Homo sapiens: one gene and its partners. The protein of the gene in region 5 purifies or fractionates together with the protein of the main gene of each other region. This does not show direct contact. Each region holds a gene or a part of one and is shown on either strand. Other genes may lie near its edges.

Evidence for each region.
Region 1: the proteins of KLK8 (region 5) and LMF1 purify together in Homo sapiens (affinity purification with mass spectrometry, with the first as the bait; one large-scale study listed by BioGRID). This does not show direct contact.
Region 2: the proteins of KLK8 (region 5) and TAMM41 purify together in Homo sapiens (affinity purification with mass spectrometry, with the first as the bait; one large-scale study listed by BioGRID). This does not show direct contact.
Region 3: the proteins of KLK8 (region 5) and SLC16A10 purify together in Homo sapiens (affinity purification with mass spectrometry; one large-scale study listed by BioGRID and IntAct). This does not show direct contact.
Region 4: the proteins of KLK8 (region 5) and TIMM17A purify together in Homo sapiens (affinity purification with mass spectrometry; one large-scale study listed by BioGRID and IntAct). This does not show direct contact.
Region 6: the proteins of KLK8 (region 5) and SLC25A15 purify together in Homo sapiens (co-immunoprecipitation; 2 studies listed by BioGRID and IntAct, with this or other methods). This does not show direct contact.
Region 7: the proteins of KLK8 (region 5) and RAB39A purify together in Homo sapiens (affinity purification with mass spectrometry, with the first as the bait; one large-scale study listed by BioGRID). This does not show direct contact.

Annotation. Positions count from the first base shown.
Region 1 is NC_000016.10:957,485-960,984, forward strand, and holds part of LMF1 (lipase maturation factor 1), read right to left. Parts: intron 1-3,500. UniProt on the Homo sapiens protein: Involved in the maturation of specific proteins in the endoplasmic reticulum. Required for maturation and transport of active lipoprotein lipase (LPL) through the secretory pathway. Each LMF1 molecule chaperones 50 or more molecules of LPL.
Region 2 is NC_000003.12:11,792,414-11,794,885, forward strand, and holds part of TAMM41 (phosphatidate cytidylyltransferase, mitochondrial isoform a precursor), read right to left. Parts: intron 1-2,472. UniProt on the Homo sapiens protein: Catalyzes the conversion of phosphatidic acid (PA) to CDP-diacylglycerol (CDP-DAG), an essential intermediate in the synthesis of phosphatidylglycerol, cardiolipin and phosphatidylinositol.
Region 3 is NC_000006.12:111,174,503-111,178,002, forward strand, and holds part of SLC16A10 (monocarboxylate transporter 10), read left to right. Parts: intron 1-2,709; coding exon 2,710-3,163; intron 3,164-3,500. UniProt on the Homo sapiens protein: Sodium- and proton-independent thyroid hormones and aromatic acids transporter.
Region 4 is NC_000001.11:201,962,003-201,965,502, reverse strand, and holds part of TIMM17A (mitochondrial import inner membrane translocase subunit Tim17-A), read right to left. Parts: intron 1,888-3,500; coding exon 1,759-1,887; intron 71-1,758; coding exon 1-70. UniProt on the Homo sapiens protein: Essential component of the TIM23 complex, a complex that mediates the translocation of transit peptide-containing proteins across the mitochondrial inner membrane.
Region 5 is NC_000019.10:50,998,805-51,003,055, reverse strand, and holds the start of KLK8 (kallikrein-8 isoform 1 preproprotein), read left to right. Parts: upstream 1-1,451; 5' UTR 1,452-1,524; intron 1,525-1,880; 5' UTR 1,881-1,888; coding exon 1,889-1,958; intron 1,959-2,337; coding exon of another isoform or gene 2,338-2,472; coding exon 2,473-2,632; intron 2,633-2,797; coding exon 2,798-3,060; intron 3,061-4,251. UniProt on the Homo sapiens protein: Serine protease which is capable of degrading a number of proteins such as casein, fibrinogen, kininogen, fibronectin and collagen type IV. Also cleaves L1CAM in response to increased neural activity.
Region 6 is NC_000013.11:40,792,611-40,796,110, reverse strand, and holds part of SLC25A15 (mitochondrial ornithine transporter 1), read right to left. Parts: intron 2,954-3,500; 5' UTR 2,885-2,953; coding exon 2,830-2,884; intron 1-2,829.
Region 7 is NC_000011.10:107,959,448-107,961,714, reverse strand, and holds part of RAB39A (ras-related protein Rab-39A), read right to left. Parts: intron 1-2,267. UniProt on the Homo sapiens protein: The small GTPases Rab are key regulators of intracellular membrane trafficking, from the formation of transport vesicles to their fusion with membranes.

The DNA of each region.
Region 1 (3,500 bases), on a different chromosome or scaffold from region 5:
GGAAAAATCAAAATCATTAAGGTGTCAATTTGATCCATAAATTCGGCACAATCTGAACCAAACACCCAGTCAGTGCTTCCGCCGAGGCTGACAAGCTGATTCTAGAATATACATGGGAGAGCAAAGGGATTAAAAAGCCAAAATCATCTGGAAAAGAACAGAGGTGGAGGACTCATGTTACCCAATTTCAAGACTTACTAAAAAGCTAATCAAGACCACATCAAGACAGCGCAGTATTGATTAAGGAAGAGCCGCAGAACTCAATGGAATGGAAGAGACGGCCCAGACACAGCCCCCCTGCCCCCGACCCGACACACAGAGTGAACAAATTCTGACAAAGGTTCAAAGGCAACTACACAGACAAAGAGCAGCCTTGGGCCGGGCGTGGTGGCTCACACCTGTCATCCCAGCACTTTGGGAGGCTGAGGCAGGAGGATCGCTTGAGCCCAGGAATTCCAGAGCAGCCTGGGCAACATAGTGAGACTCAGTCTCTACAAAATAAATAAAAAAACAAAGAAGAGTCTCTGTAACAATCATGTTGGAACAGATGGATGTCCACATGCAAAAAGATGGACCTGAACACACTTCACACCTTACACAAAAATTAACCAAAAAGGATCATAGACCTAAATGTAAAACATAAAAGCATAAGACTTCCAGATGGAAATATAGAAGAAAATCTATGTGACTTGGGTTTGGCAACAAGTTTTTAGATACAACACCAAAAGCATAATCTATGAAATTAGAAACTGTAAATTGAACTTTATCAAACTGAAAAACTTTTGATCTGCAAAAGCTACTTTTAACAGAATGAAAACACAAGCCGCAGATTGGAAGAAAATACTGGCAAATCACACATCTGATAAAGGATTTGTATCTAGAATATTTAAAGAACTTTTAAAATTCAATAATTAGAAAACAAACAACCCAATGTTAAAGGTGGGAAGAAAAAACCAGGCCACAAGGTCTGAACAGACATAGGAAGGTGTACGGATGGCAAATAACACGTGAAAAGATGCTCAACATCCTTCATCACTGCGGAAATGCCCATGAAAACCACAGCGTGCTGTCACCACACACACGTCACATGGCCGAAGTGCTTGAAAACGGACAGTGCCCAGGCCGGGCGCGGTGGCTCATGCCTGTAATCCCAGCGCTTTGGGAGGCCGAGGTGGGCAGATCACCTGAGGTCAGGAGTTCAAGACCAGCCTGGCCAATGTGGTGAAACCCCGTCTCTACTAAAAATACAAAAATTAGCTGGGCATAGTGGTGCACACCTGGAATCCCAGCTACTCGCAAGGCTGAGGCAGGAGAATTGCTTGAACCCAGGAGGCGGAGGTTGGAGTGAGCCGACACAGCGCCACTGCACTCCAGCCTCGGCGACAGAGTAAGACTGTCTCAAAAAAAAAACCAAAAAAACAAAACAAAAAAAACACGAACATGGACAGTGCCCAATGCTGCAGAAGGTTCGGGACAGCAGGAGTGCCCTCGCTGTGCCGGGGATGCTGTGGCCTACCACTGTGGATGGCAGACGGTGGCATCTGACCCAGATAATGAAGGGTTACCTTACAAATCAGCTACTGCACCTCTCAGGCCTTCAACCTGAAAGTGTGCTCGCACAGAAGCCTCATGCAGATGCTCATAGCAGCTCTGTTCATAGCCACTAAAAACTAGAAACAAGGAAGACATCCTTCACGGTGGAAGTGGATAAATAACCGGAGGTGCATTTGTGCAACAGAAAAATAATCAGAGATAAGAATGCAGCTGTTGGTTCAGGCAATAACATGGATGAATCTTAAGTGCATTTTGCTAAGCAAAAGAATCTAGACCCAACAGGCTATATACTGCGTGATTTCATTCGTATGTCACACTGGAAAAGGCAAAACCAGAGGGACGGGAGACAGACCCGGGCGTGCCAGGGGCTGGTGCAGGGGAAGTGGTCACTCCCATGCACGGGGGACTTGGGGCTGGAGCTGGGGTGATGGAGGCAAAGCCCACAGCACTGAGCATTACACGAGATGAACTTCAATGTGCACAAACTATTGGGGGAAGACCCGACCAGGAGGTTGGGGGATGCAGATAGAATACAGGCTCCACACGCACGGATGTGAAACAGAAACACACTGGCCAGAGGGCAGGAGCCGCCTAAGCAACTCCGGAAAATGTTCTGAGTGGAGACCGCAAGGCCAGAAGGAGCTGTACACAAACGCTGCACTCCAGGGCTTTCCCCCCCGGGCCTGGGTGGACAATTCTCGCACGTGCACCAGGGCTGAGCAGATGCTAGAGGAGTCAGGGGAGCCAGGTTCCCACTAGCAGAGAGGGAGGATTCAGATGGGCCAGCAGGGAAGACTGGAATACACCGTGTGCCAGGACGGGAGGATGGAATACACCATGTTCCAGGACGGAAGGCTGGAATACACCGTGTGCCAGGTGAGAGTCAGAGTCATCGGCATGGACCAGGTTGACCTTCGTATACTTACAGATGGATAGGTGGATACGACAGAGAAGCAATCAAATGTGTGAAATGAGATAGTGACACACAGAGCCTAGCTCTACCCAGGAAGAGGGCCAGCAGCTGTGACACCCCGGGAGCAACGGCCCTCCCAGTGCCCAGACTGAAGTTTCTATGCTCCCCTAAAAAGAACCAGGGCTCCTTGGAAACAACTCATTCTAGGGCTGGGGCAGAGAAACAGAAGCTGGGCCGGAAGCATCCCTGCGGGGAAGGAGGGGAAACCCACCAGTGGTCAAAGCTGGAGGAGCTGAGCAGCAAACTCACAGTGACAGCACTGGATCATAACCCAGACAAAGACTCACAGTGACAACACTGGATCACAACCCAGACACAGACTCACGGTGACAGCACGGGATCACGACCCAGACACAGACTCACGGTGACAGCACGGGATCACGACCCAGACACAGACTCACGGTGACAGCACGGGATCACGACCCAGACACAGACTCACGGTGACAGCACGGGATCACGACCCAGACACAGACTCACGGTGACAACACTGGATCACAACCCAGACACCATCTCATGGTGACAACACGGGATCACGACCCAGACACAGACTCACGGTGACAGCACGGGATCACGACCCAGACACAGACTCACGGTGACAACACGGGATCACGACCCAGACAGACTCACGGTGACAGCACGGGATCACGACCCAGACACAGACTCACGGTGACAGCACGGGATCACGACCCAGACACAGACTCACGGTGACAGCACGGGATCACGACCCAGACAGACTCACGGTGACAGCACGGGATCACGACCCAGACACAGACTCACGGTGACAGCACGGGATCACGACCCAGACACAGACTCACGGTGACAGCACGGGATCACGACCCAGACACAGACTCACGGTGACAACACGGGATCACGACCCAGACAGACTCACGGTGACAGCACGGGATCACGACCCAGACACAGACTCACGGTGACAGCACGGGATCACGACCCAGACACAGACTCACGGTGACAG
Region 2 (2,472 bases), on a different chromosome or scaffold from region 5:
GGGGTTCTCTAACAAGGGGTCCACAGATTAAGTCTGAGTGTCTGTGAACTCCCTAACACTGCAGGAAAATCTACTGTGTGTGTGCGTAGGTGCACTTCTGTGCAGGGCGTCCAGAGTTCTAGTCAGATTTTCACAGGGATCCTGGACTTGCAAAAGGCTAAGAACCAACAGATCAGAATGAAGAGTCTTTTCTGCCTTAATATTATAATTTCAACAGAGGTGGAGAACTTAAATTTCATGATTTTGGAATAGGCAAAAATTTTCTAAACAGGACACAAAAAACTGCTAAACATATAGAAAACAAAATGGATAAACTGGACTACATGAAATTATGAACTTCTTTTCACCAAAAGACACCATTAAGAGAGTGAAATGACATGGCTTACAGCCATAATCCCAACACTTAGGGAGGCCGAGGCGGGCAGACCATGAGGTCAGGAGATCAAGACCAACCTGGCCAACATGGTGAAACCCCGTCTCTACTAAAAATACAAAAAATTAGCCAGGCGTGGTGGCATGTGCCTGTAGTCCCAGCTACTTAGGAGGCTGGGACAGGGGAATCGCTTGAGCCCGGGAAGCGGAGGTTGCAATGAGCCGAGATCACGCCACTGCACTCCAGCCTGGCCACAGAGCAAGGCCCCATCTCAAAAAAAAAAAAAAAAAAAAAAAAAGAGAGTGAAATGACAAGCCACGGAGTGGGGGATTTTGACATCACATGTATCCAACAATGGAGTTGTGCCCCGACTACAGAGAGAATTCAGTAAGCAAAAGAGACAACTCAGTAGGAAAATGAGCAGAAGACTAGAATAGACGCTTCACAAAAGAGCATATCCAAATAAACAAATGAAAAATGCTCAACTTCCTCAGTCATGAGGAAAATGTAAATTAAAAGATCAATATGGTACCACTAGTCACCCACTAGAGTGCCTAAAATGAAAAAGACCTAAACAGGCATTCAGGGAGGTGCTGCAACAGAAGCTCTGCTAGTGCAAGTATAAATGTGGACGATTGTTTAGCAGTTTCTACTAAAGCTGAACAGTCACATGCTTTATCATCCAGGTATTCTACCCCTCAGTACATACCTGACAGGAATGCATACACCCACCCACCAAAAGACAGGTACAAAAATATTCACAGCAGCACTACTTCTAATAGTCCCAAGCGGGAACAACCCAAGTATCCATCAATAGTAGAATGGATACATTGCGGTATATTCACACAGCAGAATACTGCACTGGGCAGAAATGAACCACTGCTACTCCCAACACGATGAATCTCCCTATGTTATAAATGAACAGGGAAAGGCACAAAAGAGGACATGCTTATACATGGTTAAAAAATGGGTAAAACAGAACCGTGGCACTGGGAGTCAGGCTGGAGCTTACTCTCGGAGAAGCAATGCCTGTGACGGGCATGAGGGGTACTGGGGACTGGAATGACTGTATTTCTTTACCTGGGCACTAGGTCTATGAGGTGTTCCCTTTGTGGAAATTCATCAGATTTATGATTTTTGCACTTTTCTATCTATATGGAGATATTTCCTACTACCAGAAAATTTAGAATCTTTCATTTATTTGGTCACACATAGAACAAATATTTATTGAGCACCTGTATAAGCAAGACACTGAACTAGTTGCTAGGGATACTGGTACAGATAACAGCTATGGTCTCTGCCCTCACAGAGTCCACAATCCATAGACTTCTACTTGGTCTACACTAAGCTTACTTTCTTCAATTTTTTTTTTTTTTTTTTTACTCTGTCGCCCAGGTTGGAGTGCAGTGGCATAATCAAAGCTCACTGGAGCCTCGATCTTCTGGGCTCAAGAGATCCTCTCTCCTCATCTTCCTGAGTAGCTGGGGCTACAGGTACATGCCACCACGCCCGGCTAATTTTATTTTATTTTTGTAGAGATGGGGTCTTGCTTTGTTGCCCAGGCTGGTCTTGAACCCTTGGCCTCAAGCCATCCTCCCACCTTAGCCTCCCAAAGTGCTAGGATTACAGGTGTGAGCCTCTGTGCCCAGATTACATTAAGCTTACTCTTTCTACAGGAAAGGATGATGATTTAGGAATTCTGCTCACTCCTTCCCCAGTGGATAAAAATGCAACATCTCTTTAGATGCATTCCCTGTAGAGAGATCCTTATTTACCTAAAGCTAGTCATTATGAATTCTGGTTAGAATCTAAAGTCAGGATTTTGTTTTAGAAGCATGCAGAAAGCTATGTCACTATATGGCTCCTTAGGTTTCTCTTCTGATTTCCAGCTTGTTTCACATGACCTACAGCGAAGTTAATACACACGTAAGACTATGAACTCCCCGTGTGATCTTAAAACAGATGGGCTACTGACAGACAAACTCTCCAGGAAACAATGTGAGGTAGAAATATGGCTAGGCTGTGAAAGATCTCTATCTTTCCATAATCTTACGTTTCAGACCTTTGATAAAATTAGTATCCCCAAAACATCCTTCCAG
Region 3 (3,500 bases), on a different chromosome or scaffold from region 5:
TCTTTAAAGTACCTTTATGGGTTTTTTCTTCTAAAATTGTTTTTTAAAGAAAAAAGTTTTATTTGGAATAAGATTCTTGTAGGTAATTCCATGAGATGATTTATTTTAGCAGCAACATAATATTTACATTATTATTAATGTAATTAATGTTATTAATACCTCATCAGATAGCTTCTTTGATCTGGAAGCTTCCAGGTACCTATTGTCAGTACTTGTGGCTCTACCACTTGCCGAATGTATTACAACTCTAGTTGTGGTAGAGAGGGGACTGAGAGGTAGACAACTTATGTAATCTACTACCTAGTTTGTTAACAAAACACACATACAAAGCAATGTTTTTCAAATTTTTCTGACCACTGAGCAATAAAAATTATGACATATATTTTGATGTGACCCAGTTCTGTCTCTCTTTCTCTACCCTCTAAGTGAAACAAAATTTATTGAAACCAAAATTCCCTTACTACATGTAATATTCTCATATATTCTATTAAATTTCGTTATTTAGCTTGCTGATCAAAGGCTACTGAAACTTGAGAGCAAGATACAGGAGCAAGGGGAAATGTGGTATAGATTCTGAGTGTCAAGTGGCAGGTCCATTTTTTCCTCTAGCTCCAGTTCTGCCTTCTGAGGAAAACCTTCTCCAACAACTTAGGTCAATCACACCCATGTCCCTTCTCTGAATCCTTTTTGCACATATGATTGGTATCCGACAGCCTTACTCATTTACATTGCACTTATTTGGCTGCCAAACGTCACAAACTGGAACCATGTGTTACTGAAGGGAAAACCTGGAAGTGAAAAGGGTTCAGCAGTAGTGCAAATACCATCATAAAGCTCATATACTTCACTCTGCAGGAGGGAGAAGCTCTGTGGTTTTCCAACTGAGAGCATTACAGTACAGTGATACCACTGTACAGGAACTGATGTTCCTGATGATTCTGCTGTGAACAGTATTTTTAATATACACTTTGAAGAAGGCAGAGAGAAATGTATAATAGACTTAAATTTTTTTCTTTAAAATTGTTAAATAAAAACAAATAAGCACTTTAAGTAAGTTACAATTATCTGGAAAACTACTTAGGTGGAAAAACTGATACAGAATGAATGAAGTATTAATTTCTGTTTTGTTCTGTGTTATTATTATTTGGGATAGATGTCTTGTTTCTTTAAGCAGACTATGAATATCTTGAAGGCAGAACCACATTTTTTTTTTTTTTGAGACAGGGTCTCACTATTACTCAGGCCAGAATGCAGTGGTGTTATCATAGCTGACTGCAGCCTGGATTCCTGGGTTCAAGCCGTCCTCCTGCCCCAGCTTCCTGAGTAGCTAGGACTACAGGCATGTGCCATCACACCCAGCTAATTTCAGCTATTTTTTTTTTTTTTAAATAGAGATGGGGTTTTGCTATGTTGCCAGACTGGTCTCAAGCCATCCTCCTGCCTTGGCCACCCAAAGTGTTGGGATTACAGGTGTGAGCCACCACGTCTGGCCAAGGACCAGATTTTTAATATTCTTTTCCACAATGTATCTGGTACACAGTAGTTGCTTAATATGTTGGCTAAACAAAGAGTGGAGATTCAGTAAAGGGTGATCAGAGTGAGGTGAGATTAATTTGGGAAAGCCTAGAAGTGATTCTTGAGCCTGATTTGAAGGTGGTGCTAGCTGTGGATTAGTAGAGGGAGAAGGGCATCTCAGAGAGAGGATTGCCAACATGCCTTAATTTTATCAGATTCTAGAGTTCCTTATGATTACCTCAGCATGTTGCTAGACTAGCATTATTATCCAAAATTTTAATTATTAACCAACTTTAATCTTACTTTCTAACAAATTGTTTGCTTTTACTACTGATAGCCTTTTCAAAAAACTTTAACTAGTTTTATTCCTTACCATAATTGTTTCAAAGAACATAATGATATGATCCTTTATCTTCCTAAGAAATGTGCAATTATTTGGTTAAACTGTAAGATTATTTAATCCATTATTCTTTTGACACATGCATGGCCTTACAGCTTACAAACTGGGATCACTAAAGGAATACACTTAATTTAAGTCTTTCTGTAGTCAGAATATGATTTCTTGTTGTCTTGCACAATACTGAGAACAGTGCAGTACAGGGCGAAGGTTGGTCTACAGCCCTTAGGCCAGCAAAAACAGGCACAACTGCACCTCTGTGCAAATGTTCCTGACATAACCTTGGGGAAAAAATATAAAATGCGGCCTTTTCTTTTACTACCTTGTTTGGTAAGTACCTGGAAAAACTCCATGAAATAATTAGATTTCATAGTTAATTCTAACTTTTTTAAAAAATGTTTCATTGAGACTAGGTTTTTGGTTTGTTAATTGAATCACTGTTGATTTTACCCTTCCTGGCACCAACCTTTATTTCTGAGCTGTGGAGAGCACAGTTCTCACTCAGTGCTGTGTGCGTCACCTGAAATCCACAGAAAGAGGTGGCTGAACAAAATCACTGATGACCTTAATGGTTATTTTTCACATATTCAGATTAAATTAAAATACGTTTAGTGCTACATGCTTGACTTACTGAGTTTTTCCCTCTATTTTGGTTAATTTTTTTTTTTTTTGGTTAACTTTTACTTGTAGAAAATATGTTGATGAACAAAAACCCACTTATACTATAAGATTTTATTCTACCAAGCACACAGTAACAATATTGAAAGCTGCTTTCCATCTTTTTCATCTTTATACAGTTCCATCGAGCCTCTGTACCTTACCTATGGAATCATATTTGCCTGCGGCTGCTCCTTTGCATACCAGCCTTCATTGGTCATTTTGGGACACTATTTCAAGAAGCGCCTTGGACTGGTGAATGGCATTGTCACTGCTGGCAGCAGTGTCTTCACAATCCTGCTGCCTTTGCTCTTAAGGGTTCTGATTGACAGCGTGGGCCTCTTTTACACATTGAGGGTGCTCTGCATCTTCATGTTTGTTCTCTTTCTGGCTGGCTTTACTTACCGACCTCTTGCTACCAGTACCAAAGATAAAGAGAGTGGAGGTAGCGGATCCTCCCTCTTTTCCAGGAAAAAGTTCAGTCCTCCAAAAAAAATTTTCAATTTTGCCATCTTCAAGGTGACAGCTTATGCAGTGTGGGCAGTTGGAATACCACTTGCACTTTTTGGATACTTTGTGCCTTATGTTCACTTGGTGAGTATGCTCCTTCACTGATCATGAATATTACTATTTAATAAAGAAAAACTTCTTTGAAGAGAAAGTTAGGTCGAGTTAAAGTTGGCCTCAAACATTATCCTGGTTGTAATTTTGGTATTCTTGAAATGAAAGGTCTCTCAAGACAATGTCAGCACATCCATTAGACCACTAAACAGAGAGAGTATGTTTCATAGTGTGCTTTGGTATTTTAAAAACCCTGCAAACCCAGCCAGACACCATGGTGCCTGTCTATGGTCCCAGCTACTAAGCTGAGGCAGGAGGATCACTTGAGCCCAGGAGTTCGAATCCAGCCTAGACAACATAGAGAGACTCT
Region 4 (3,500 bases), on a different chromosome or scaffold from region 5:
CCAGCTCCTTCAATTAAAGCTAGGAGAATGCCACCCATTGCGGCTGACCCAACCATGGCCACTGGTCCATCTGAAGACATTAATAACAAAGAGATTATTTTTTACAGAAATCTAGTTTACTGTAAGAGATAGTAAAGAAGAGAACTGTCCATATGGTGACATGCTCCCCCAACTCCCAAACTCTTTCTTATTGCCTAAGACCCAGAGTCAGTAAACTACAGCCACCCACAGTCCACCCACTGCCTATTTTTGTAAATAAAGTTTTACTGAAAGGCCATAAATCCCAGCACTTTGGGAGGCTGAGGCAGGCAGATCATGAGGTCAGGAGTTCGAGACCAGCCTGGCCAACATGGGGAAACCCCGTCTCTACTAAAAATACAAAAATTAGCTTGACGTGGTGGCGGGCACCTGTAGTCCCAGCTTCTCAGGAGGCTGAGGCAGGAGAATTGCTTGAACCCAGGAAGCAGAGGTTGCAGTGAGCCGAGATTGTGCCACTGCACTCCAGCCTGGGTGACAGAGTAAGACTCCGTCTCAAGAAAATAAATAAATAAATAGGGCCGGGCGCAGTGGCTCACGCCCGTAATCCCAACACTTTGGGAGGCCGAGGTGGGTGGATTACGAGGTCAGGAGATCGAGACCATCCTGGCTAACATGGTAAAACCCCGTCTCCACTAAAAATACAAAAAATTAGCCAGGCGTGGTGGCACACACCTGTAGTCCCAGCTACTCGGGAGGCTGAGGCAGGAGAATCGCTTGAACCCGGGAGGCAGAGCTTGCAGTGAGCCGAGATTGCGCCACTGCATTCCAGCTCGGGCGACAGAGTGAGACTCAGTCTCAAAAAAAAAAAAAAAAAAAAAAAAAAAAAAAGAAATAAAATAAAATAAATAAATAAATAAAGTTTTACTGAAACACAGCCATACTGTTTCGTTTATGTATTATCCATGGCTGCTTTCATGCTATGACAGCAGATTTAGGTAGCTATGACAAAGACCACACAGCCCACAAAGCCTAAAATATTCACTATCTGGCCTTTTACAGAAATAGTTTGCAAATCCCTTGGTCTAAACCACTAAGCTCAAAGGAATTCTCTGTCCTGAGGATCCAGAAGATGGTTCTAAGTTCCTTATTCATAACAACTCTATATGGCAGGTGTAATTATTAATTAACTCCAGATTACTGGTGAAGAAATTATAGCATAAAAAGTTTGGTAAACTGACCAGTCATACAGCTAATTAATGGCAGAACTGGGACCTGAAGTGCTCTCAACCACTGTAATATATGGGTTAGAATTCCATGCTCTTTCATTCTCAAATATTCCAAATAAATAGATCCCCTTACTTTTTTTTCAAATCACCATATACTGTATATTTATGCTATGCCAAATTAAACAATGCTCAGTTTTATAATTATTATTTTTTTTGAAGCAGGGTCTCACTCTGTTGCCCAGGTGAGAGTGCGGTGGCTCAAGTGATCCTCCTGCCTCGGCCTCATGAGTAGCTGGGACTATAGGCATGCACCAACACACCCAGCTAATTAAATTTTTTTTTTTGTAGAGACCAGGTCTCCCTATATCTGATCTCAAGCTCCTGGACTTGTGCAATCTACCTGCCTCAGCCTCCCAAGTGATGGAATTATAGTCATGAGCCAATGTGCCTGGTCAATAATCAGTTTTATATATTACAGATGTCATTCAATTGAGGCAGATGAGGTTTTCCTAAAAGTGTGGCTTCTACTAGTATGTCTGTAATGACTACTTACTTCTTGCTGCCAGTATGGCTCCCGTTAAGGCACCACTTGTGATGGAGTTCCAGGGATCTTCCTTTCCTCTGACTTGAACCATACTACAGTCAATCATGGAAAACAGCCCTCCCCAAACTGCAAAGCTACCTATTTTATTGTAAAAAGAAACAAGCAAATACTAATTTAAATTTCATCTTCCATTTAAAATATTATAGTCAAAAACATACTCACTATAGTCTCAAAATTTATAGTCCAAACAAATACATGCAAACACAAGTTTGAATAAACACCGAACAAGAGTTAGAATACTTATCTTTCGAATAAAGCTGGATTGTATTATATCAGCTGGAAAATTAGCAACGGCCCAAAGCCTATAAGAAATAAGCCAGCCGGGTGCCATAGCTCACACCTGTAATCCCAGCACTTTGGGAGGCTGAAGTGGGTGGATCACCTGAGGCCAGGAGTTCAAGACCAGCCTGGCTAACATGGCGAAACTCCGCCTCTACTAAAAATGTAAAAATTAGCCGGGTGTGGTGGCGAGCACCTGTAATCCCAGCTACTGGGGAGGCTGAGGCAGGAGAATCGCTTGAACCCAGGAGGCGGAGGTTGCAGTGAGCCGAGATCGTGCCACTGCACTCCAGCCTGGGCAACAAGAGCGACACTCCATCTCAAACAAACAAAAAAGAAGCCAAGCCTAAAACAGTCAGGCTGCATATGTGTAAAAACAAGCAAATCACCCTTCCAGAATAACATATCTCTCTGGTTTAAGCAGCAATAAACAAAATCAAACTACTCTGCTTCCTCTTTCGTTCTTCTTTTCTTTCATAGCTTTACTTACCTCTATTTTTGGCCTTTCTGCATTATATGTCATTGAGCATCTACTCTATGAAAATCACCGATGGGAAAACAAAAGAAATCCAGCTATTCTGGAACGTATTACAGGTGTAAGCCAATCCATGCTGAAGGGGCAAATGAATGATATAAATAGCTAGAACTATGGAACATCAAAGGGATGGAAATTGCCTGTCCATCCTTTATTCCTCAGATATGAATTTAAAACAACCTTAAATCAGCAGATTACTTTGCACTTAAACTCTATCTAAATACAAAAACAGCCAGGTGCGGTAGCTCACGCCTACAATCCCAGCATTTTGGGAGGCCGAGGCGGGTGGATCATGAGGTCAGAAGATCGAGGGCATCCTGGCCAACACGGTGAAACCCCCGTCTCTACTAAAAAATACAAAAAAAATTAGCCAGGTGTGATGGCGGGCACCTGTAGTCCCAGCTACTCTGGAGGCCGAGGCAGGAGAATGGTGTGAACCCAGGAGGCAGAGCTTGCAGTGAGCCAAGTTTGCACCACTGTGCTCCAGCCTGGGCGACAGAGCGAGACTCCGTCTCAAAAAATAAAAAAAATAAATAAATCCAGTGGATAGTACCAGTGGAGTATAGCATAAGCATCCTCATTTTTAGTACAATATTAGACATCACATCCTATGTAAAAACAAACCAGTTATTTCTTCTAACTCAGTAATTCTATGCCCTGGGAGAGAGCTATGACGTCTAGGTATATTAGAATTACCTCACTAAAATTTTCTGACAAGACCCTCCCATTTCCTCATGAGCCTAAAATCTCAGGAGACCCTTCCCCTGAGAATCATTGCCAGAATAAGTGTTGGCTACTAATGAGAATGGAGAATTTGAGTCTAAGCAGGATGAGGAGGAGATCCATAAAGGGTAGCCTGGTGTGAGGATCCAGAGCC
Region 5 (4,251 bases):
TAGGGGGTTCTCGTAGGGTCCCAGCCTCAATGGTTCCCGCCCTGGACCTCCAGCTGCCCTGACTCCCCTCTGGACACTAAGACTCCGCCCCTGAGGCTCCGCCCCCTCACGAGGTCAAGCAAGACACAGTCGCGCCCCCTCGGAACGGAGCAGGGACACGCCCTTCAGAGCCCGTCTCTATGACGTCACCGACAGCCATCACCTCCTTCTTGGAACAGCACAGCCTGTGGCTCCGCCCCAAGGAACCACTTACACAAAATAGCTCCGCCCCTCGGAACTTTGCCCAGTGGGACTTCCCCTCGGGACTCCACCCCTTGTGGCCCCGCCTCCTTCACCAGAGATCTCGCCCCTCGTGATGTCAGGGGCGCAGTAGCTCCGCCCACGTGGAGCTCGGGCGGTGTAGAGCTCAGCCCCTTGTGGCCCCGTCCTGGGCGTGTGCTGGGTTTGAATCCTGGCGGAGACCTGGGGGGAAATTGAGGGAGGGTCTGGATACCTTTAGAGCCAATGCAACGGATGATTTTTCAGTAAACGCGGGAAACCTCACCTTCTTTCTGCCTGAGCTGTGAGATGAGTGGAGAGCAAACGGGTGGGCGGTGAAGGGCAGATGAGGGAACCGGTACCGCCTTGCAACTCCCCCTTAAACCCCTAGTAAGTTTTGCCTAAAGTCTCTGTCCATCAGCCCTATTGCAGCAAGACTCCTGGGTTCTGCTTGGGTTGGTCTTGCCGCCTCCAGGGGAAGGGGAAACCAGGTCACAGTGCCTCCCAAACCTGCCCTCCCAGATCCCGGACCTCTCAGGGGACAGCGGGCGGGGCCTGATCCACCCTCTGGTTTCTGACCCTAGAAGACCTGCCTTTCTTCGGTTCCCGGTTACTGGCAGCAGCCCCCTCCTCCCACAAAAGATCAGGTTCCAAGCTTCTCCTTTTAAAAGTACTTAGAATTCAGCCCCCAGCTCTCTCCTCCCTCACACCCAGGAATCCAGGCCCCTAGCCCCTCCTCCCTCAGACCCAGGAGTCCTGGCCCCTAGCAGCCCCCTCCTCCCTCAGACCCAGGAGTCTGGGCCCCCAGCCCCTCCTCGGTCAGACCTAAATCCCAGGTCCCAGTCCCTCCTCCCTTAGATTTAGGAGTCCAGGCCCCCAGCCTCTCCTCCCTCAGACCCAGGAATCCAGGCCCCCAGCCTCCTCCCCTCTCAGAACTAAAATCTTGGCCCCCAGCCCTTTATGTTTCAGATCGTAGAGTCTCAGCACCGAGTCCCTCCTCTCCCTAGCCTCAGGAGTCTGAGATTCCAGCCCCTCCTCCCTCAAGATTTCACGTTCAATCCCCTCCGCCCCTTCTCACTCACACCCAGTGTTCCAGTTCCCAGAAGCTCCCCAGGCTCTAGTGCAGGAGGAGAAGGAGGAGGAGCAGGAGGTGGAGATTCCCAGTTAAAAGGCTCCAGAATCGTGTACCAGGCAGAGAACTGAAGTACTGGGGCCTCCTCCACTGGGTCCGAATCAGTAGGTGACCCCGCCCCTGGATTCTGGAAGGTGAGGTGCAGAGGTACTCAGATACAGACATCAGGCCCCGGACCCTCCTTCTCCAGATTCCAGGACCCCAGCCTCAGATGCCCTTCTCTGTCGAGATCCAGCAGTCTGGACCCCGGCTTCCTCCTCTCCCTAATTTAGGAGTCCCAGCTCCCAGCTCCCTGTCCCCTCAGACCCAGACATCGAGGACTCCCCCCTCCCTTGGAATGTAGGAATCCAGTCCCCCAGCCTCCTCCTTCCTCCAGAGAAGCCCAGAACAGCCCCAGATACTCTCGGCTGCCTCCCCAGTGCCCAAATCCAGAACTGGGAGCTCAGGCTCCTCCTTCCTGTTTACCGGCCCCGCCCTCTCCATTTCCCAGACCTCACCATGGGACGCCCCCGACCTCGTGCGGCCAAGACGTGGATGTTCCTGCTCTTGCTGGGGGGAGCCTGGGCAGGTGAGGAGGGTTGCGGAGGCCTCCGGAGGGGAGGGATCTGAAGGCAGCAGTGGCGCTGGGGAGTCTGTGGGAATGCCGCGGGGGTTATGTGGGTGCGTGTGCACGGATGTGAAGAGTGCGATACGGTGCAGGAGCCTCTGTGGGCTTTCCTCAGGGTGGACAGAGGCAAGAAACAGGTAGCAGCAGGTAGGAGTAGGTTCCGTGATGCTGTAAATTGTCTGAATAGCTACAGCCTTTGGGGGCTGCTTGCTTGGGGGCATAGATTCACCTGGGAGTACTCGGGGCCTGTAGACTCATGTGGAAGCATGTGGGGGCATTCTTGGGTGTGTGACTCTTGTATGATGACACATGGACTGAAATGAGTGTCCCCGTGTGGCAGCGTGTGGAAGCCTGGACCTCCTCACTAAGTTGTATGCGGAGAACTTGCCGTGTGTCCATTTGAACCCACAGTGGCCTTCCCAGCCCTCGCACTGCCCCAGAGGGTGGCGATCCAACCCTCTCCCTCCTGCTGCAGGACACTCCAGGGCACAGGAGGACAAGGTGCTGGGGGGTCATGAGTGCCAACCCCATTCGCAGCCTTGGCAGGCGGCCTTGTTCCAGGGCCAGCAACTACTCTGTGGCGGTGTCCTTGTAGGTGGCAACTGGGTCCTTACAGCTGCCCACTGTAAAAAACCGTGAGTGGATGATGGGGGCAGAGGTCAGCTGGGGCTTAAGGAAAGAGGGGGCTGGGGTTTCGACTCAGGAAGGAGAGAGCTGAGGACTGGACTCCTGGGTCTGAAGGAGGAGGGGGCTGGGGGCAATACCCCTGCCTGGGTCCCAAACTATCCCCACCATTACAGGAAATACACAGTACGCCTGGGAGACCACAGCCTACAGAATAAAGATGGCCCAGAGCAAGAAATACCTGTGGTTCAGTCCATCCCACACCCCTGCTACAACAGCAGCGATGTGGAGGACCACAACCATGATCTGATGCTTCTTCAACTGCGTGACCAGGCATCCCTGGGGTCCAAAGTGAAGCCCATCAGCCTGGCAGATCATTGCACCCAGCCTGGCCAGAAGTGCACCGTCTCAGGCTGGGGCACTGTCACCAGTCCCCGAGGTAGTGGGCTTGTCCACTAATGGGAGGGAGAGGAGGAGCTGGTTGGCCCAGTGGAACCCAAGCTATTGGCAAAGCTTGGTCCCCCAGAGGGAGACAAAGAAGGGAAAGTGATCATGATGTTGAGATTCACAAGCAGGAGTCATATGAGAAGCCTCGAAGATCTGACTACTAACAAGAGTGGTGAGAGAAAGAACCAACTAGCAGATTGTTAAGCAGGGCCAGAAAAGCCCATCCTGTATGGCGGAGAGCACTACCCTATGGGACCTTTGGTTGTATAGGATTTTATATAATCTTAACACACTTGGGATATTTGGACTTCTCAGAGGCCCAGGAAAACAGGCTCCTAAGCACCTTCTCCCCCACCTCCCTCCTTTTTTTTTTTTTTTTTTTTTTTTTTTTTTTTTTTTTTTTTGCAGGGGGACACAGTTTCACTCAATCGCCCAGGCTGGAGTGCAGTGGCACAATCTCAGCTCACTACAATCTCTGCCTCCTGGGTTTAAGCGATTCTCGAACCTCAGCCTCCCGAGTAGCTGGGATTACAGGCACCCGCCACCACGCGAGCTAATTTTTGTATTTGTTGTAGAGACAGGGTTTCGCCATGTTGACCAGGCTGGTCTCGAACTCCTGACCTCAAGTGATCTGCCCGCCTCGGCCTACCAAAGTGCTGGGATTACAAGCATGAGCCACCGCCCCTGGCCTTTTTCTCCTTCTTGAACCCAGGAAACCTGGGCCCTGGTCACCTCTTCCCTCAGACCCGGGAGTCTAGGCCCTTCTTCTCCCAGGACCCAGCAGTCCTAGCTCCCTCTTGACTCTGGACCCCAAAATCTGGACCTCCAATGAAGCTGTCCCTTTGGGACTCCAGAATCCAGAGAGCCCCTCGCCTTCCTTCACAGTGAAAACATTGGGACTCACCTAAGAGAGTCAAGGAGCTTCTCCAGGAAGTGGCAAAGTCAGCATTCAGGTCCCTGCCTGCCTCACTCCTGCTCTGAATGCTTTGGATGAGACAGTTTGCGGCTGTGGAAACACACGTGCTCGCAAATCAAGTAGATCAGTTCAAACTATGGCTCTGCCCTTTCTCCCTGGGCAAATTCCTTTCCATCTCTGAGCCTCACTTTCCTTATCTGCAAAATGGGAATCATTAACCAATAGATTTTTTAGCTACGTGAGGGTTCAGGTTACATCAGTTTTCTT
Region 6 (3,500 bases), on a different chromosome or scaffold from region 5:
ACACAACAGGTCCTCTGCTCCTATCAATGGCTGGCAGAAAATTCCCAAAGCCCAGCAAGTTCCACATCCAGAAAGGCAGGGCCCAAAGGCTCCAAACTAACCCTCCCCTCCAGTGTGCTGCAGATGCATTACGGAGTACTAAAGCAGAGACAGCAACGACACCAGACAAGGGACCCAGGGATCACAGTCCTGCCCTGTCTTCACACCATCTTGCTGTGTAACCTTGAACAAATCTACTGCTCCTCTGTGGGCCTTTTTCTACATATCCAACGAGCATTGGAGCCAACAATGTCTAAAGGTCTCTCTAGCTCCAGCACTCCAAGACTCCAAGATCCTCAAAAGTGGGTTCCATTTGCATTCCATAGGCCTCACAGCAGAACAGAGGTTTCTGTGTCACTGCTAGGCACCTCCTCTGCCCAGCCCCCAACCTATAGACCATGTCTCGCTCCCCCTCCCTATCCTGTCCCCCCAGGAATGGGCTTCGTTGTCCTCAGAAGTTAAGACTACCCACAGCATCTCTACCTCGGTGAGGGGCGTCCCTGTGTCGCCAGCACAGGGGGAAATACCTGTCCAACAGTGATGGGGACAGTGTGTCAGTATACATAAGGGATCAATACATGTTCAAAACATGCCCACCAGCAAATGCCTTACATACCAGGCTCCCAACCATACTGTTGCAATTTCTATCTTTCAAACTAACTTGTAAATTATAAATGTGGTACCCAAATACCTGTATGCACATAAATAGGAAAAGGTAAACTTTTAAATTCTATCACCATAGGTTCTAGATCTTTGACAGATTGACTGAAAGACATAAAATGTCAAAAGCTGAGACTATATGTGGCTAAACACCCTCCTTCTGCAGAAACAGAACTGAGCCCAAGAGCATTCACTCGCTGGTGAGAGGCGGCCTGGGGCAGGCAGATGTTTGCACCATTCTCAGGGTCAGCGTCCTCCCCAGTGTGGCATGGGGGAGGGGAGGGGGAAAGGGGCTTGGGAGGCTGTAGCCTAAAGGCACGCAGTGGGCAAGAGACTACTGGGCAGACCCCCACTGGCCTTCCGTTCCCTGGGCATCTGGGGCTGGGACGCTCCTTGTGGGTTCTGCCCTGGGAGAAGTGCCCTTGCCCAGTGCTCCTCATTAGGCTCGGTGACGGTGACGCGCTCTCTCCAGTCTTCCTCATTAGCATACCCTGGCTGACCTTTGGCTCATGGAAAAACACTTTGCTCTTCTCTGAACAATTTCTTTTTCACAATTGAGCAAATGACTGATGAGGTGACCATATTCATGACCATACTCATCTGCTGGTGGTGGGGGTGGGGGGTGTGCTGGATAAGGACAGCACTGGGCAACACCCCCGCTGGCCTCCCCACTCCAGGGAGCTGCAACTACTATGAGAATCCTGCGGGAGCCCAGGGTAGTCCAGGGTTTTCCTTTGGGCAATCAGTATTCCAGCCACTCCTCCTACTTCTGGACTCTGGAGAACCAAATTACCACCATGCACTTCCCATTCCGCCCTGTTTCCCAGCCTGAGGGTCCTGCTCTTCCTGCATGTTCAAGCTGATCTTTCTAAGGAGTAGCCTGCATGGTGCCAGCACTACCCCTTATCACAGGTAGCACCTCCCTGTGCTGGGGGAGCCTCAGGCTCTTGGGCTCAGGCCCCTAGGCTCAGGTTAGCTGACATTCCCAGCAAATCCTACAACTTTCACGGCTCTAAGACACAGTCCATTATCAGTCTCATTTTCAGAGACATGTCTTTTTTTTTTTTTTTTGAGACAGAGTTTCACTGTTGTTGCCCAGGCTGGAGTGCAATGGCGCGATCTTGGCTCACCACAACCTCCGCCTCCGGGGTTCAAGCGATTCTCCTGCCTCAGCCTCCCAAGTAGCTAAGATTACAGGCATGCACCACCACGCCTGGATAATTTTGTATTTTTAGAAGAGACGGGGTTTCTCCATGTTGGTCAAGCTGGTCTTGAACTCCTCACCTCAGGTGATCTGCCCGCCTTGGCCTCCTAAAGTGCTGGGATTACAGGCGTGAGCCACTGCGCCCAGCCTTTTAAAGACATTTCTAAGAGTGTCCTCCTTTCTTTCCCAACACTAGCAGGGACAGTAAGTGGTGTTTCCCAGGAGATGCTATGGTGTTATTTTTGCACAACAAGGGCTCTGAAGACTGCCAGGCTTGAAGTGAAGAACCACATCACCTGCATATCCCAGCCAGGTGACAATGGACACGTGGCTTCACCTCTGAGCTGTTTTCCAGCTGTACTGGGCACCTTCCACCCATCACCCTGACTGACAAGGTGTTAACAATAACGGACACTCCTCTAGCTTCTGCTACTCTCTGAACAATACTAAACTTCCATCAAATGGATTAATCCCAAAGGTAAAGTACTGGAGGGAGAAAGGTAGTATTTTCATACCACTTTCATTTGATCTCATTTAGAGAGTAGTTGAGGAATAGAGAGAACTGGGTTTTCTCTGGGATTATAGTTAGGCATTGCTTAATGACTGGGACATGTTCTGAAATACATGTCATTACACAATTTCGTCATTGTGCTATCATAGAGCATACACACCTGACCCTAGATGGCGTAGCCTACTCCACACCTAGGCTATTCGGTATGGCCTATTGCTCCTAGGCTATACACCTGTACAGGATGTTACTGTACTGGATGTTGCAGGCAACTATAACACAGTGGTATTTATGTATCTAAATGTATCTAAACACAGAAAAGGTACAGTAAAAATATGGTAGTATAATCTCATGGGACCACCATCAGATACACCATCCATCAACGACAGAAACATGGTGATGAGGCACATGACTGTACCTGCAGCCCCCGCTGTGAGGTCAATGGCAGCCTGGATAGCAGGATTGGATTTCATGTTTGCCCACTCTTCTGCTGGTCTTGTGGAAGGCAGCTCTCTGGAGCTTATGACAGGCACCACATATCCCTGGGGGGAGGCAAGAGTTCACCATTAGTCCAAGTCTGCAGCATCCTGTTCTCTAGGCCTGCAGCCAAATTACAGAACCTAAACTTCTGGGAGCCATGACCTGGGGTCCACACTGTTCCAAAGGAAAGGGGCTCAAGGTATCAGTGCAGCTTAGCAACTGCCTCCTAGAAAGCTCACAGATCAAAAACCTCCCCTGTGTATCAATGCTACAGCCACCAGCAGCACTTCAACTGACCTTTCTGAAAACTGAAAAAACGAACACCAAATAAGTAAGCCAACCACAGGTGTACCAAACCGCATCAGACTTGTTTTTTTAGAGGCCTATGTTGAGCCATCAATTGAACAGGCTCAGTTCTAAATTCAGACAGCAGCCTGTGCTGGGTGCCTAAGGGGATCTCACAAGACAGTAGGTCTGGAAAAGAGCACCCAGGCAGCCAAGGGTGGGAGCTGCACCCTGGGATCACACACGCCTTGGTGAATGCCTGCTCTACCTGCAGTGTGGCTCCTTCAGCCTCTACAGCTGGGAGTCCTCATCTGTACAAGGTGA
Region 7 (2,267 bases), on a different chromosome or scaffold from region 5:
AGCACTTACATGCTATGTCATCTCATACTGTCTGATTATTTGTTTTTGCTTTCAAAAATCTGATAGATTATTACATCATTGTGGTTAAAAATAAGCATATTGAAAGACTGAGTAAAGGGCACAGGTTGTACAACAAACTAGATCTTAAGAATCTCACTTGTCATAAAATTTAATGAACTCTTCTCTCTATCAGTTTAGGAAAAAGAAACAAGGGCTGTAGTATGGATCGAATGTCTGTGTCCCTCCCAAATTCTTATGTTGAAATGCTAACCCTAATGTGGTGGTATTAGGATTAGGAGGAGGGGCCTTTGGGATGTAATTTAGGTCATGAGGGTGGAACCCTCGTGAATGGGACCAGTGCCCTTAAAAAAAGATACCCCAGAGAGCACTCTAGTCCTCTTTCTACCATGTGAGGATACAAGGTGGCTGTCTGCAACCCAGAAGAGGGCCCTCACTGGAACCTGACCATGCTGGCACCAGGATCTCCCTGATCATCCACTTCCAGCTTCCAAAATTGTGAGAACTAAATTTCTGTTGTTTAAATCCCCATTCTGTGGTAATTTGTTATAACAGCCCAAACTCACGAAGACAGCAGACTTGTCACAGTATTAGTTACAGGTACAGTCTTGTGTTGCACCTATTCAAGAAACAGGAGACTGTATGGACCTGGGATATGAATCTGAGGTGTGCTAACGATTCTCTGTATGTCTCTCCAGATCTAGTCTCCATCCTTCTCTAGGCCTGAGGAAGCTGTCCTTCACAAAAAGCTTTCCCAAACTCCCTTGCCCTCCAGCTTGCAGGGGGGTTCAGCCAATGGGAGGCGCTGGCTGGAGACAGAAGGAAAGAGAAGTCAGAGTATTTATCCCTCTGTTTGCTTCTGCTGGGCTGTGGCTTAGCAGTGGTGGTATTCCTCTGCTTCTAGTCAGGGTTTCTGTAGGGTGGACCCTCTCCCATGGCTACAGCTGTCACCACGTTCTGGTAATACCATTCTCTGTCCTCTCCTCTTCCAACCAGGTGGTCAATGGCTTCCCACTGTTGCTAGCTCTGAATGCTTCACCATCCTTTATTAGTATCCTTGATGCTGATTGTATCTCTGGAAATAGTCACTTCATTAAACTCTTTTCGGCTAACCTACAATTGTGCCATCTGTTTCCTGGCTGAATCATGAGGCAAGGTGTCAAGGCTATACTGTTTTACGTTTCTTGCCCCTCCACATGTTGTTTTATCTATTTGGAATATCTTCTACCCCTTTTCTGTCTAAGAAACTCCTATGTCTGCTTCAATAGTGAGCTCAATAATCATACCATCTGAGCAGCCTTCCCTGCCACTCACCTCTTTCTTAGGTACTCTTCTTATAGTTCCTCTGAACCACTGGCATTCTGCCATTATGATTATCTTAATTTTCTTGATATGCTGACTGGATTTGCTGTTATGTCAATCATACTGCATGGCAAATGACAGATGTCATACAATGTTTGTTATATTGGATTTTTTTTTTTTTTTTTGAGATGGAGTCTTGCTCTGTCGCCCAGGCTGGAGTGCAGTGGCGTGATCTTGGCTCACTGCAACCTCCGCCTCCTGGGTTCAAGCAATTCTCCTGCCTTGGCCTCCCAAGTAGCTGGGACTATAGGCGCATGCCACCACCCCCAGCTAATTTTTGTATTTTTAGTGGAGACAGGGTTTCACCATGTTGGCCAAGATGCTCTCGATCTCTTGACCTTGTGATCCACCTGCCTCGGCCTCCCAAAGTGCTAGGATTACAGGCGTGAGCCACCGCGGCCAATATTGGATTAATTAACCTTATTGGAGAGGAAAAGTGCTAAATGCTGTATAAACCAGAGATCCCATGAGTCTCAGTTTCCAGTTTGTCAATGGTCTTTTAGCAAACTCATCTGACTACTTGCCTGAGGCACCAAGATCTTTGTGAATGGCCAGTGGGTTATTTGTTACCGTCATACTTTCCTACTTGTCCTCATTGCTGAAATCACAGCTCAGTTCAGTGCCCTGATGCCATAAATAGCTTTGTTGTGGGAGTGCAAACCATTTTACCTCCTCTTTCTTTCTATTTCTCCTGCTTCCCTGTTTCTCCTCAGAATTCCTAGTAGAGAGATTCCCAAGTGGCTATTTTTGAAAAACTTTTGTCAAGGACTATAGTATTATAGAGAAATTGAGTTTTTCACCAACCCGATGCTTAGATTCTAAAAATAAAAAAAGAAAAGAAATTGACAATAAGAAAAATCTCCCACCATCTTTGGCAGGCTATGAAT